Linked DNA regions of Homo sapiens: regions 2 and 3 are each reported to be linked to region 1. Evidence: microRNA targets listed by miRTarBase, many of them from high-throughput screens and not tested one by one. Region 1 holds a microRNA gene; each other region holds the end of a gene's coding sequence.
What was found. Region 1 holds the annotated microRNA hsa-miR-6880-5p (UGGUGGAGGAAGAGGGCAGCUC, at 1,217-1,238, shown strand). A microRNA usually pairs through its seed, bases 2 to 8, with sites in the 3' UTR of a target mRNA and lowers its output. Matches are read on the target gene's strand: a 7mer-m8 pairs with bases 2 to 8, a 7mer-A1 pairs with bases 2 to 7 and ends in A, and an 8mer does both.

Region 2: the mRNA of LAT2 is a reported target of hsa-miR-6880-5p. The part of its 3' UTR that is shown has no 7-base or 8-base seed match.
Region 3: miRTarBase lists CENPN as a target of hsa-miR-6880-5p. Seed matches in the 3' UTR shown: 7mer-m8 at 2,127-2,133.

What each region holds. Positions count from the first base shown.
Region 1 is chr12:124,334,454-124,338,453 of GRCh38, reverse strand. It overlaps MIR6880 (microRNA 6880), which reads left to right and starts at 1,212; the gene lies at 1,212-1,273. NCOR2 (nuclear receptor corepressor 2) reads left to right here. Exons shown (of 49, transcript NM_006312.6): 40 at 1,274-1,701; 41 at 2,822-2,971; 42 at 3,174-3,319; 43 at 3,837-4,000. RefSeq lists a silencer at 1,820-2,000.
Region 2 is chr7:74,224,021-74,228,020 of GRCh38, forward strand. It overlaps LAT2 (linker for activation of T cells family member 2), which reads left to right. Exons shown (of 14, transcript NM_032464.3): 12 at 1-177; 13 at 619-740. The coding sequence ends at 722. Among named protein-coding and RNA genes, the nearest start is that of LAT2, 16 kb to the left of the region's middle.
Region 3 is chr16:81,028,001-81,032,000 of GRCh38, forward strand. It overlaps CENPN (centromere protein N), which reads left to right. Exons shown (of 11, transcript NM_001100624.3): 10 at 171-297; 11 at 569-3,485. The coding sequence ends at 651. The region is part of intron 2 of CENPN-AS1 (CENPN antisense RNA 1); the gene reads right to left. Among named protein-coding and RNA genes, the nearest start is that of ATMIN, 5.8 kb to the right of the region's middle.

The DNA of each region.
Region 1 (4,000 bases):
TTACTGCAACCTCCACCTCCTGGGTTCAAGTGATTCTCCTGCCTCAGCCTCCCAAGTAGCTGCAGTTACAGGCACGTGCAACCACACCCGGCTAATTTTTATATTTTTAGTAGAAATGCGGTTTCACCACGTTGGCCAGGCTGGTCTCAAACTTCTGACCTCAAGTGATCTGCCTGCCTCAGCCTCCCAAAGTGCCGGGATTACAGGCGTGCGCCACCGCACTCAGCCTCCAGGACCTATTTAGAGGCAACTTACTCCTCCAAAATGAATTTTCATTCAAAAAAGTACTTGTGCCCCAACTTGCCGCTTGGATGCCTGAAGTCATACCTCCCCTAATCATTATTTCAATTATGAAAAATGGCATCGTTTCCCAAAAGCAGTGGCGACTTTGTCACCCCTGACTCAGACCCAGCAGGTGCATGAAGCACTAATCCCTGGCTGTGGGGAGCAGGGTTCCGCACACAGGCTCTGTGGGATATGCCCGTGACAGCCGATTCAAAAATATAATGGAGAAAACGAGTGCCTGCCCACTGCCCGCTCATGAATGAGGCTCTGGGAGGTAGAGTTAGCGAGAGATGGGGGTGCCCCCATGGAAACGCAGGGCTCCGGGAAGGCCACGTGGGTGGAGCAGCCGGCTCCTGTTCCAGCCCCAGCCCTGTGCAGGGGCAGCTGTGCCCCAGCTTCTCACTCACAGAGCTGGGAACAGCAGCTTTCTCTGTTCTCAACGCCCACCCTGGCCGCCCCCTGGCATCCTTCCCCTTGCTCTCTCACTCCTCACGTGGCTTTTTTAGCTCTTCGGGTATCCTGAGCAGGCCCAGCTCCCTCATGTGCCCCCTCCCTGAAGACCTCCTAGCCCTGCCTCAGCTTCCTTGCCGTTCTCTCCTGGTACCTCATTGACTACCTCCACACAGTTACCAGGCTCTGTAGAGCTTGGGATATCTGTTAATGTGATCGTAGTCTGTTTTCTGAATTAGATGGTAAGATGCTTGCATCCGTTTTATGACCGCTGTATTCACAGTGTCTAGAACAGTGCCTGGCACCTAGTAGCTGCTTAATCAGAAGTTTTGGAATGATGCAAGGAATGAATGAACGAATGAGTGGGATGGGTCAAACCATGACGCACAGAGTCTGGCAGGTTACAGTCAGGAGGGCAGTTTCACTCTGGGAGCAGCAGGGGATGTGGATTTATCCCAGGGCAATGGGGACTCATCGAGGGTGGTGGAGGAAGAGGGCAGCTCCCATGACTGCCTGACCGCCTTCTCTCCTCCCCCAGGTCCACCTCCACCTCCTCACCCGTTCGCCCGGCTGCCACATTCCCACCTGCCACCCACTGCCCACTGGGCGGCACCCTCGATGGGGTCTACCCTACCCTCATGGAGCCCGTCTTGCTGCCCAAGGAGGCCCCCCGGGTCGCCCGGCCAGAGCGGCCCCGAGCAGACACCGGCCATGCCTTCCTCGCCAAGCCCCCAGCCCGCTCCGGGCTGGAGCCCGCCTCCTCCCCCAGCAAGGGCTCGGAGCCCCGGCCCCTAGTGCCTCCTGTCTCTGGCCACGCCACCATCGCCCGCACCCCTGCGAAGAACCTCGCACCTCACCACGCCAGCCCGGACCCGCCGGCGCCACCTGCCTCGGCCTCGGACCCGCACCGGGAAAAGACTCAAAGTAAACCCTTTTCCATCCAGGAACTGGAACTCCGTTCTCTGGGTAAGACCACCCTGACAGCGGCCACCTTCATAGACGCGATTATCATGCGTCAAATTGCTCACGATAAAGGGGCGCGAGAAGGAGGTGCGCTGGCCAACGGCTCCCCTCGCGATGGTAAGACTTCCGGCCCGCACCCACCCCGTCTCGTGGTCCAAAGATATTTTCAGATCTCTGCTTTTTACTTTGGCCCCCGTTTTTTTTGTTGTTGGTTTTGGTATTTTGTTTTGAAGCCCATCCGTCCTCGCCGGTTTGCACGCGCTGACGACTACTCCGGCCGCGCCTGCCCCTCTGGTTTGGGGGCGCTCATCATTTGCACATCATTTTACCATGGTTTTTTTTTTTTGGATTTTTGCTTTTTTTTCTTTAATGAATGGATCTGTGATTCTGACTTCGACTGCGCCCCCATCTCCCTCTTTGCGCCTGTGTCCAGGGAGCAGGGATGGGGCTGCGGGAGGGCTCGGGCCTACGCCCCCACCTGCCGGCTGCCTGGATGCTGTCGGACTGGGGGAAGTGGAGGCAGGCGGTGCAAGGAGAAGCTGAGGCGGGGCAGGGACCTGCGCTGTCGAGGAGGAGCTGGGTCTGGCTCTTGCATCTTGCCCTGTCCCCAGCCCCTGTACCCCAGAAAAAGGGGAGCCCTCTGCCTCTGGACCCCTGCCTTGGCCCTAGTTCATGGCTCCTCTCTGTTGGACTGGGATGGCCGAGGCTATAGCCCAGGCGGGGCCCCGGGGACCCAGGGTCACTCCCAGCCACACCCCCACTTCTCACTCCGCCCCACACACTCCTTCCCCAGAGACCCATGCTGCCCCCATCTCACGCTGGCCTCGCCCGGCCTCCACCACCTGAACCCATCTCTGTCCCTTCTTGCCTAATCTCTCTCTGTGTCTCCCTCTCTGTCTGTCTCTGTCCCGGGCTCTGCATCTCTCTCCACCTCTCCCTTGGCCTCCCTGTCTCTCCCCAACACCCCTCTCTGCCTTACTGTCTTTGGGAGCCCAAACCCTACCCCTAGCTTGGGTTCCCCTTGACCCCCCCGGGGTCCCAGCCAGCTGGGAGGGCAGCCCTGCCCCTCGGGCTCCGAAACCCTGGGCCCGGTGCCTGACTCTGCACCCCCCGCCTGCCCTAGGTTACCACGGCAGCAGCTACAGCCCCGAAGGGGTGGAGCCCGTCAGCCCTGTGAGCTCACCCAGTCTGACCCACGACAAGGGGCTCCCCAAGCACCTGGAAGAGCTCGACAAGAGCCACCTGGAGGGGGAGCTGCGGCCCAAGCAGCCAGGTACGCCCCACCCAGTACCCAGGCCCCCGAAGCCCTGCACAGTGAGGACCCTCAAGGCCCCATCATGCAGATAGGAAAACAGAGGTGCCTAAAGGCCAAGGAATTGGCTGGATCATGAGGCTCAAAGGCATGGGGCTGGGATTTGGGCCCAGCAGCCCTGGGGCCAGCAGACACCCCCTGACCAGCTCTGCTCTGCCTGCAGGCCCCGTGAAGCTTGGCGGGGAGGCCGCCCACCTCCCACACCTGCGGCCGCTGCCTGAGAGCCAGCCCTCGTCCAGCCCGCTGCTCCAGACCGCCCCAGGGGTCAAAGGTCACCAGCGGGTGGTCACCCTGGCCCAGCACATCAGTGTAACTACGCGTTCTCTGCTGCTGCTTGTCACCTTTGCACCTGGGGGCACCAGGCCTGGAGAGGGGATGGGGAACCCCACAGCCCTTCTGTCCTGGCGGGGTGGCTGGGGGATCCAGGGCATGGCGCTGGGGGGATCCAGGGCGTGGGTGAGGGTGAGATCCCAAAGCCCCGAGCACCGGCACCATCACCGCCCCCTAATCCATGGGAGGAGCCTGTGATGCGAGCCGATGGCATCTTCACGGGCAATGAGGCCTTCCTGGTGGCCCAGGTTTCTCAGTGTCATGGGCTGGTCTCATCAGCCATCTGCCAACTACCAGCTTGGGACCGCTGACCACAGCCCCACTCCCATGCACACTGGGACACGGAGGCCCAGAGGGTGGCGGGCAGGTCCACAGTCACCCAGGAAGCTGGCCCCACCCAGGATTCTGCCCCGAGCTCCGTCTAGCCCCTCCCCACCCCCAGAAGGTTCTGTCAGGAGAGTGCTGCCTGACTCTGGGCCCCCCCACTTGCCTGCAGGAGGTCATCACACAGGACTACACCCGGCACCACCCACAGCAGCTCAGCGCACCCCTGCCCGCCCCCCTCTACTCCTTCCCTGGGGCCAGCTGCCCCGTCCTGGACCTCCGCCGCCCACCCAGTGACCTCTACCTCCCGCCCCCGGACCATGGTGCCCCGGCCCG
Region 2 (4,000 bases), not on the chromosome of region 1:
CCCAGCAGGAGGGCATAGGTGGCCTCTGCAGAGGGGACCTCAGCCTGTCACTGGCCCTGAAGACTGGCCCCACTTCTGGTCTCTGTCCCTCTGCCTCCCCGGAAGAAGATGAGGAATCTGAGGATTATCAGAACTCAGCATCCATCCATCAGTGGCGCGAGTCCAGGAAGGTCATGGGTAGGTGGCCGGGAGAAGAGGCAGGGTGGTCCACTTAGGGCAGGCTTGAGGGACTGGCCTGGAAGGGCAGGCTGAAAGTGGGCTTCCCTCCAGCCAGTCCAGCTAACCCCGCAGTGATGCCTGGGTGCAGGAGCAGCTGCAGAGACCTTGAACCACACAGGACGGCCCTTGGCAGCCGCCCAGCCTCCAGGGTGGGGTCAGGTCCTCCCGGGCAGGCCGCCCCATCCAGCTGCATGCATGGAGTAACGCATTCACCTGCTCTCACAGCAGGACGATCTCCGGCAAATCCCAGAGACAGGACAGACACACACCGCCAGGACCTGTCGGGCGTGGCATTTCCCGCGGGCTGTTTTGTGGAGTCTGGGGGTCTGAGTCTGGGGGAGCAGTCATGGGTGTCTCCATGTGAACCACTCGATGACCTGTCTGCCCGCTGGTCCACAGGGCAACTCCAGAGAGAAGCATCCCCTGGCCCGGTGGGAAGCCCAGACGAGGAGGACGGGGAACCGGATTACGTGAATGGGGAGGTGGCAGCCACAGAAGCCTAGGGCAGACCAAGAAGAAAGGTACAGCCCCTGCTCTCCAGCTGCCGTGGGCCAAGGATTGGAGGTCTTGCCAAGCTGCAGGACCCCCAATCCAAGGGAACAGCCGAGAGTGTGGGTGGAGGGGCCATGGTGGGGGCTACAGGGTGCACCCATGGGTGCTCCAAGAGGGCAGCTTGGCGACTCTGTTCCTCTGTTCTGGCCAGGGGCGTCAGGCAGGGAATTCTGGTGACTTCAGGGGCAAAGAAGTGGGCACCGGGTGGGTCTCCCAACTCCACTGCATCCTCCTGGCTGCGACCTTGGACCAAGTGACAACCTCCCAGAACTTAGTTCCTCACTTGGTGCCCACCTCTCAGAGAAGACATCGCACACACGGCCGGGCACGGTGGCTCACGCCTGTAATCCCGGCACTTTGGGAGGCCGAGGCAGGCAGATCACCTGAGGTCACGAGTTCGAGACCAGCCTGGCCAACATGGTGAAACTTCATCTCTACTAAAAACACAAAAAATTAGCCAGGCATGGTGGTGGGTGCCTGTAGTCCCAGTTAGTTGGGAGGCTGAGGCAGGAGAATCATTTGAACCCTGAAGGCGGAGGTTGCGGTGAGTTAAGATCACATGCACTCAACCCTGGGTGACAGAGCGAGACTCCGTCTCAATAAATAAATAAAAAAACAGACATTGCACACAAAGCCTCAGCCCAGCAGGCACTCGGTCAATGCTGGAAACAGACAGGAGGCAGGGACGTTGGGAAATGTAACAGTGGCTGAGACGCGCTGAGGAGCCACCGCAGGCCAGTGAGATGGTGCGGCGCTAAGCGCTCACACGTGCACCATCTCTTAGCACCCAAAGCCACAGAGCAGTTAAGCCACCTGCCCAAGGCCACATCTTGAAGTAAGGGGAGGAGGAGATGGAATCCCCAGTGGTCAGACATCAGACATCAAAGCCTAGGCTGGGTCTACTGCTTGGGAAGCACGATGGACCCCCAGAGGGCCTTGAAGGCTGCCCAAAGTCCCCATCTGGGAGACCCAGGCCGTCATCTCAGCGAGCAGGCTGGAGGGTGGAAACCACAGTGAACCTGGGTGGTCAAGAGTCAGCCCCAGAGGCAGGTGCAGGAGTTTGAGCCAAATGTGCAGAGCCCCACGTCATTCATTCAACCAGTATCCACTGGGCCCCTGCTACGGGCAAGTCCTGCTCTAGGTGCTGGGAACACCAACATAAAGAACAGCAAACCCCTGACCCCTTAGAACTTGCATTCTGGTAGGAGAGAGAAAACAGATAGGGCTGGACACAGCGGTCATGCCTATAAATCCCAGCACTTCGGGAGGCTGAGGCGGGAGGATCCTTTGAGCCTCTGAGTTTGAGGCCAGCCTGGGCAACATAGCAAGACCTCTCTCTCTACAAAAACTTTTTTTTTTTTTTTTTGAGACAGAGTATCACTGTCACTCAGGCTGGAGTGCAGTGGCGCCATCTCGGCTCACTGCAACCTCCACCTCCTGGGTTCAAGCGATTCTCGTGCCTCAGCCTTCCAAGTAGCTGGGATTACAGGCACACGCCACCATGTCCAGCCTCTATAAAAACATTTAAAATTAGCCAGGCATGGTGGTGGATGCCCTAGAGTCCCACTGACTTGGGAGGCTGAGGTGGGAAGATCACTTGAGCCTGGGAGGTCAAGGTTGCAATGAGCCATGGTTGCTGCAGTGAGCTGTGGTCGTGCCACTGCACTCAAGCCTGGGCAACAGAGCAAGACCCCATCTCAAAAAAAAAATTTAAAAATTAGCTGGGCATAGTGGTGTGTACCTGTAGTCCCAGCTACTTGGGAGGCTGAGGCAGGAGGATCGCTTGAGCCCAGGAGTTCAAGGCTACAGTGAGCTATGATTGTACCACTGTACAGCCAGGATGACAGAGTGAGACCCTGTCAAAACAACAACAACAACAAGAAAACAGATAAGAAGACATGGCATGTTCACTGGTGGTAAGTCTGGCAGAGAGAAACAAAACAGGGAAGCGGGGCAGGAAGTAGTGTGGGGTTGTGGGCAAGACGCAGTGTTGCAATTTAAGGAAGGCGGCTAGGGAAGCCTTTCAGAGCTCCCTTCCTCACCCCATCTGGGGGAAGGACATCCAGGCAGAGGGGACAACAGAGGCCCCAGGGTGGAGTGAGCCCCACAGGTCTGAGCAAAGCCAGGGGCCAGGGAGGAGCAGGTGAGGGGAAACTAGTGGAGGTCGAGGCCGTTGGTGGGGAGGCTGACCAGGCAGGGCCAGCACTTGGGGTTTTACTGCATGAGATGGGAGGGAGGGAGGGAGATAGAAAGGTTGTTTTTTCTTTTTTTTTTTTTTTCGTTCCTGTCGCCCAGGCTGAAGTGCAATGGTGCAATCTTGGCTCACTGCAAACTCCGCCTCCTGGGTTCAAGCGATGCTCCTGCCTCAGCCTCCCGAGTAGCTGCGATTACAGGTGTCTGCCACCACACCCGGCCAATTTGTATTTATTTTATTTTATTTTGTTTTTTGAGAGGGAGTCTCGCTCTGTCACCCAGGCTGGAGTGCAGTGGCGTGATCTCGGCTCACTGCAACCTCTGCCTCCTGGGTTCAGGTTTCTCTTGCCTCAGCCTCCCGAGTAGCTGGGATTACAGGCACACGCCACAACACCTGGCTAATTTTTGTATTTTTAGTAGAGATGGGGTTTCACCATGTTGGCCAGGCTGGTCTCAAACTCCTGACCTAAAGTGATCGGCCCACCTCAGCCTCCCCAAGTGCTGGGATTACAGGCATGAGCTACCATGCCTGGCTAATGGGAAGGTTTTGTACAAAGACTGGCTGGATGTTTCTAATTCAATTTTTCTGGCTGTTGGGCAGACAAATGGGTACTGGGAGAGTGGGTACAGGAAGCCCAGGAAGGACCCAGGCACTGGTGCCATCTGGGCAAGGGGTGGCAGCAGTGGAGACAGGGGTAGGCAACATGGTGAAACGCTGTCTCTACATAATATACAAAAATTTGCCAGGTGTAGTGGCGCATACGTGTAGTCCCAGCTACTCGGAGGTTGAGGCGGGAGGATAGCTTGAGTCTAGGAGGTTGAGCTGCTGTGTGAGCTGTGATTGCACCACTGCACTCCAGCCTGGGCCACAGAGCAAGACGCTGTCTCAAAACAAAAACAAAAAGAAGAGGCCAGGCGCAGTGGCTCACGCCTGTAATCCCAGCACTTTGGGAGGCTGAGGCAGGCTGATCACCTGAGGTCAGGAGTTCGAGACCATCCTGGGCAACATGGGGAAACCCCATCTCTACTAAAAATA
Region 3 (4,000 bases), not on the chromosome of region 1:
GACCTGCCCTCTATGTTTGCAGTTAGCAGATTAAATGGTCCCCACCCCTGTTAATTCCTGTATTTCTTAATGGCAAGAATTAATGAAACGTATCATTATGATTTCATTATATTTTACCATTCGTATTTATACAATATGTTTAATAGTCATTTATAAATGTTTGTTGACAGCTTGAAACGAAATTCAAAAGTGGTTTAAATGGGAGCATCTTGGCTGAGAGGGAAGAACCCCTCCGATGCCTAATAAAGTTCTCTAGCCCACATCTTCTGGAAGCATTGAAATCCTTAGCACCAGCGGGTGAGTGGTCAGCTTACTCTATAAGCTAGAAAAATTAACAACATGCCTCCATTCCATCCTTATAATCTGCTAATTACTTCTGAGCTCACCCATCACCCTAGTCTGCTAGCCCATCCTGCTCTCTCTTGCATCTTCTGCTTCTGTACTTAATAGGGAGGAGGGGCATCTATGATCCACCCTCTAATCTCAGCCATTTTTAAACTGACTCAAATCCATCCTCCTGTGATGACTTTTAATTTTCTTTTTCCCTTTTTTTTTTTTTTAATTTCAGGTATTGCAGATGCTCCACTTTCTCCACTGCTCACTTGCATACCCAACAAGAGAATGAATTATTTTAAAATTAGAGATAAATAAGACGTGCGTGGTTTCTTAAGCACAGCTCCTCCTTCTTGATATTGCACATGCACTTCAGTTCATGGCTAGCTGTATAGCTTCCGTCTGTAAACTTGTATTTTCAAGAATCCTTGGTATTGAATTTTTAGAAATGCTCACATAATTGTTGGGACTGATTCATTCCTCCACGATATGCCTCCTCTCTCTGATATCCTGCTAACTGTAGCCGTTGTGGCATTTGAGATGACAGGACATATATATATATGGCCCCACACTTGACCTTGAGTGCCTGAATGCTCTGAAATCAAGCATATGGCACAGCGCTCAAGACTTTTGGGTTTGTGTCCTTTTTTCTATGGCTGTCTCTTCTCAATTCTGGAGAGGTCTGGTTCCAGTGGCTGGTTTCCAGGGATTGATTCTTAAGCTCTGGATCACAGAGAGAAGCAACAAGGAACTATACTCAACTCAAAACTTTTTAGGAGAATCATGAAATTGGTCTATTCAAAGGATGGAGTTGAGTCCATTCTGTTATTGTTGCAAGAGGTTGCATATTTGGTGAGTCAGTTATATAAAATAGTGTTCTTATTGTAAATATGATACTTCTCATAATCTATTTTATCATGTGTATAACATTCAAACTGACAAATATATTGACTTATGAATAAAGGTGTCAAAAAACTGGCACATCAGTTAATTTTGATCAAAGTACTTCAGTGATCATCACTAAATACCCTATCTTTTTAAAAATTTTTTCCTTTCTAATTTTTTATTTCTTTATTTATTTATTGAGACAGGGTCTCACTGTGTCACCCAAGCTGGAGTGCAGTGGCATGATCATGGCTCACTGCAGCCTGGACCTCCCAGGCTCAAGTGATCCTTCCACCTCAGCCTCCCGAATAGCTGGGATTACAGACGCGCTCCATCCTGCCCAGCTAATTTTTTTTTTGTTTGTTTTTTGTTTTTTGAGACAAGTCTCCTTCTATCGCCCAGGCTGGAGTGCAATGGCACAATCTTGGCTCCCTGCAACCTCTGCCTCCTGGGTTGAAGAGATTCTCCTGCCTCAGCCTCTGAGTAGCTGGGACTACAGGCCTGCACCACCATGCCCAGCTAATTTTTGTATTTTTAGTAGAGACAGGGTTTCTCCATGTTGCCCAGGCTGATCTCAAACTCCTGGGCTCAAGCAATCTGCCCATTTTAGCCTCCTAAAATGCTGGGATTATAGGAGTGTATTAGTCTATTCTCATGCTGCTAATAAAGATACCTAAGACTGGGTAATTCACAAAGGAAAGAGGCTTAACTGACGCACATTTCCACGTGGCCAGGGAGGCCTCACAATCATGGTGGAAGGCAAATGAGAAGCAAAGTCATGTCTTACATGGCGGCAGGCAAGAGAGCTTGTGCAGGGAAACTCCCATTTATAAAACCACCAGAGCTCATGAAACTTATTCACTACCATGAGAATAGTATGGGGGAAATCGTTCCCATGACTCAAGTATCTCCACCTGGCCCTGCCCTTGTCACATGGGGGTTATTACAATTCAAGGTGACACTTGTGTGGAGACACAGCCAAACCATATCACAGGCATGAGCTACCACGCCCGCCAGCATGTCTTTTTTAAACATTTTAAAATCTATTCTTTATCTTGTTTCAGAGAGGATTTGGAGTTACAGAAACACATTAGACTGGGCATGGTGGCTCACACTTGTAATCCCAGCACTTCAGGAGGTTTCTCCTAGTGTACTCTCACACTTCTGATACCAGATATGTGGGGGAGGGGGTTTCCCCCACACATTAAGCAAGTGTGAAACATGATATAGAAAAATGACTTCACTCTGGGCCGGGTGTAGTGGCTCACGCCTGTAATCCTAGCACTTTGGGAAGCCGAGGTGGGCAGATCACCCGAGGTCAGGAGTTCGAGACCAGCCTAGCCAACATGGCAAAACCTTGTCTCTACTAAAAATAGAAAAATTAGTTGGGGGTAGTGGCAGCCGCCTGTAATCCCAGCTATTCGAGAGGCTGAGGCAGGAGAACTGGTTGAACCGGGGAGGCAGAGGTTGCAGTGAGCCAAGATCATGCCACTGCACTCTAGCCTGGGTGACAGAGTGAAACTCTGCCTCAAAAAATAAAATAAAGGCCAGGCATGGTGGCTCACGCCTATAATCCCAGCACTTTCAGAGGCCAAGGCAGGTGGGTCACAAGGTCAAGAGTTTGAGACTAGCCTTAGCAACATGGTGAAGGTGAACCCCGACTCTACTAAAAATACAAAAATTAGCTGGGCCTGGTGGTGTGCACCTGTAATCCCAGCTACTTAGGAGGCTGAGGCAGGAGAATCGCTTGAACCCGGGAGACATAGGTTGCAGTGAGCCGAGACTGCACCACTGCACTCCAGCCTAGGTGACAGAGTGAGACTCCATCTTAAAAAATAAATAAATAAAATAAAATAAATGACATCACTTTGGTTCAGAGCTCTAAAATGGAGGGAGGAAGCCATTCTAAAAAGGACTCCCTACATGACCTGCAACTTGAAAAAAAATTAAAAGCTCCAAAAAAAAAACAATACAGGAGCTTACCTTGAACCTTTGAATTGGGCCAAATTGCGATGACCACTGCATCCTGGAAAATTTTATTTCACCAGCACTACAACTCCTCAACAGCACCAACCAATAAACTATGGATTTTTGTACTAAGCCAGTTGCCTCTTTCAAAACAACTTGTCAACTTGTCTAATCACCCTCAGCTTTTTTTAAAAACCCCTCCTCTACCCTCTCTCTTCAGAACACAAGTGGCTTCTAGCTGAATCTGTCTCCCAAATTGCAATTCCTAAGACCTCAATAAAAACACCTTGTCTTGCTGCTTTGCAGTGTGGTCTTTTGCCCCTTGGATGACATTAAATGGTGTCAGAATTGAGTGGGACAAAAAAGCAACTCCCTTCTTTGTTCTGGTGCGGCCACGGATTCGAGCACAGTTCCTGCAGGAGGAACCCCTTGTGTTCCACACCTCTCCCATGGCCACGGATTCTGTTTACGAGTTGTCTCATTCCTTAACCCCCTACCTTGGTTGAGGTTCTTTATCCAACGTCCTTGGTTGCCAGCTGTCCAGTAGCTGGGATTACAGGCACGTGCCACCATGCCCAGCTAATTTTTGTATTTTTAGTAGAGACAGGGTTTCACCATGTTGGTCAGACTGGTCTCAAACTCCTGACCTCAAGTGATCCTGCCGCCTCGGCCTCCCAAAGTGCTGGGATTACAGGTGTGAGCCTCAGTGCCCAGCCAAAATTCTATTTAACTTGATTTTTCTCTTCATGGCCAACTCACTGTTTCATTTGTGAAACTACTAGGGAAATTTCAGACTAGGGAATATTGAGGCACA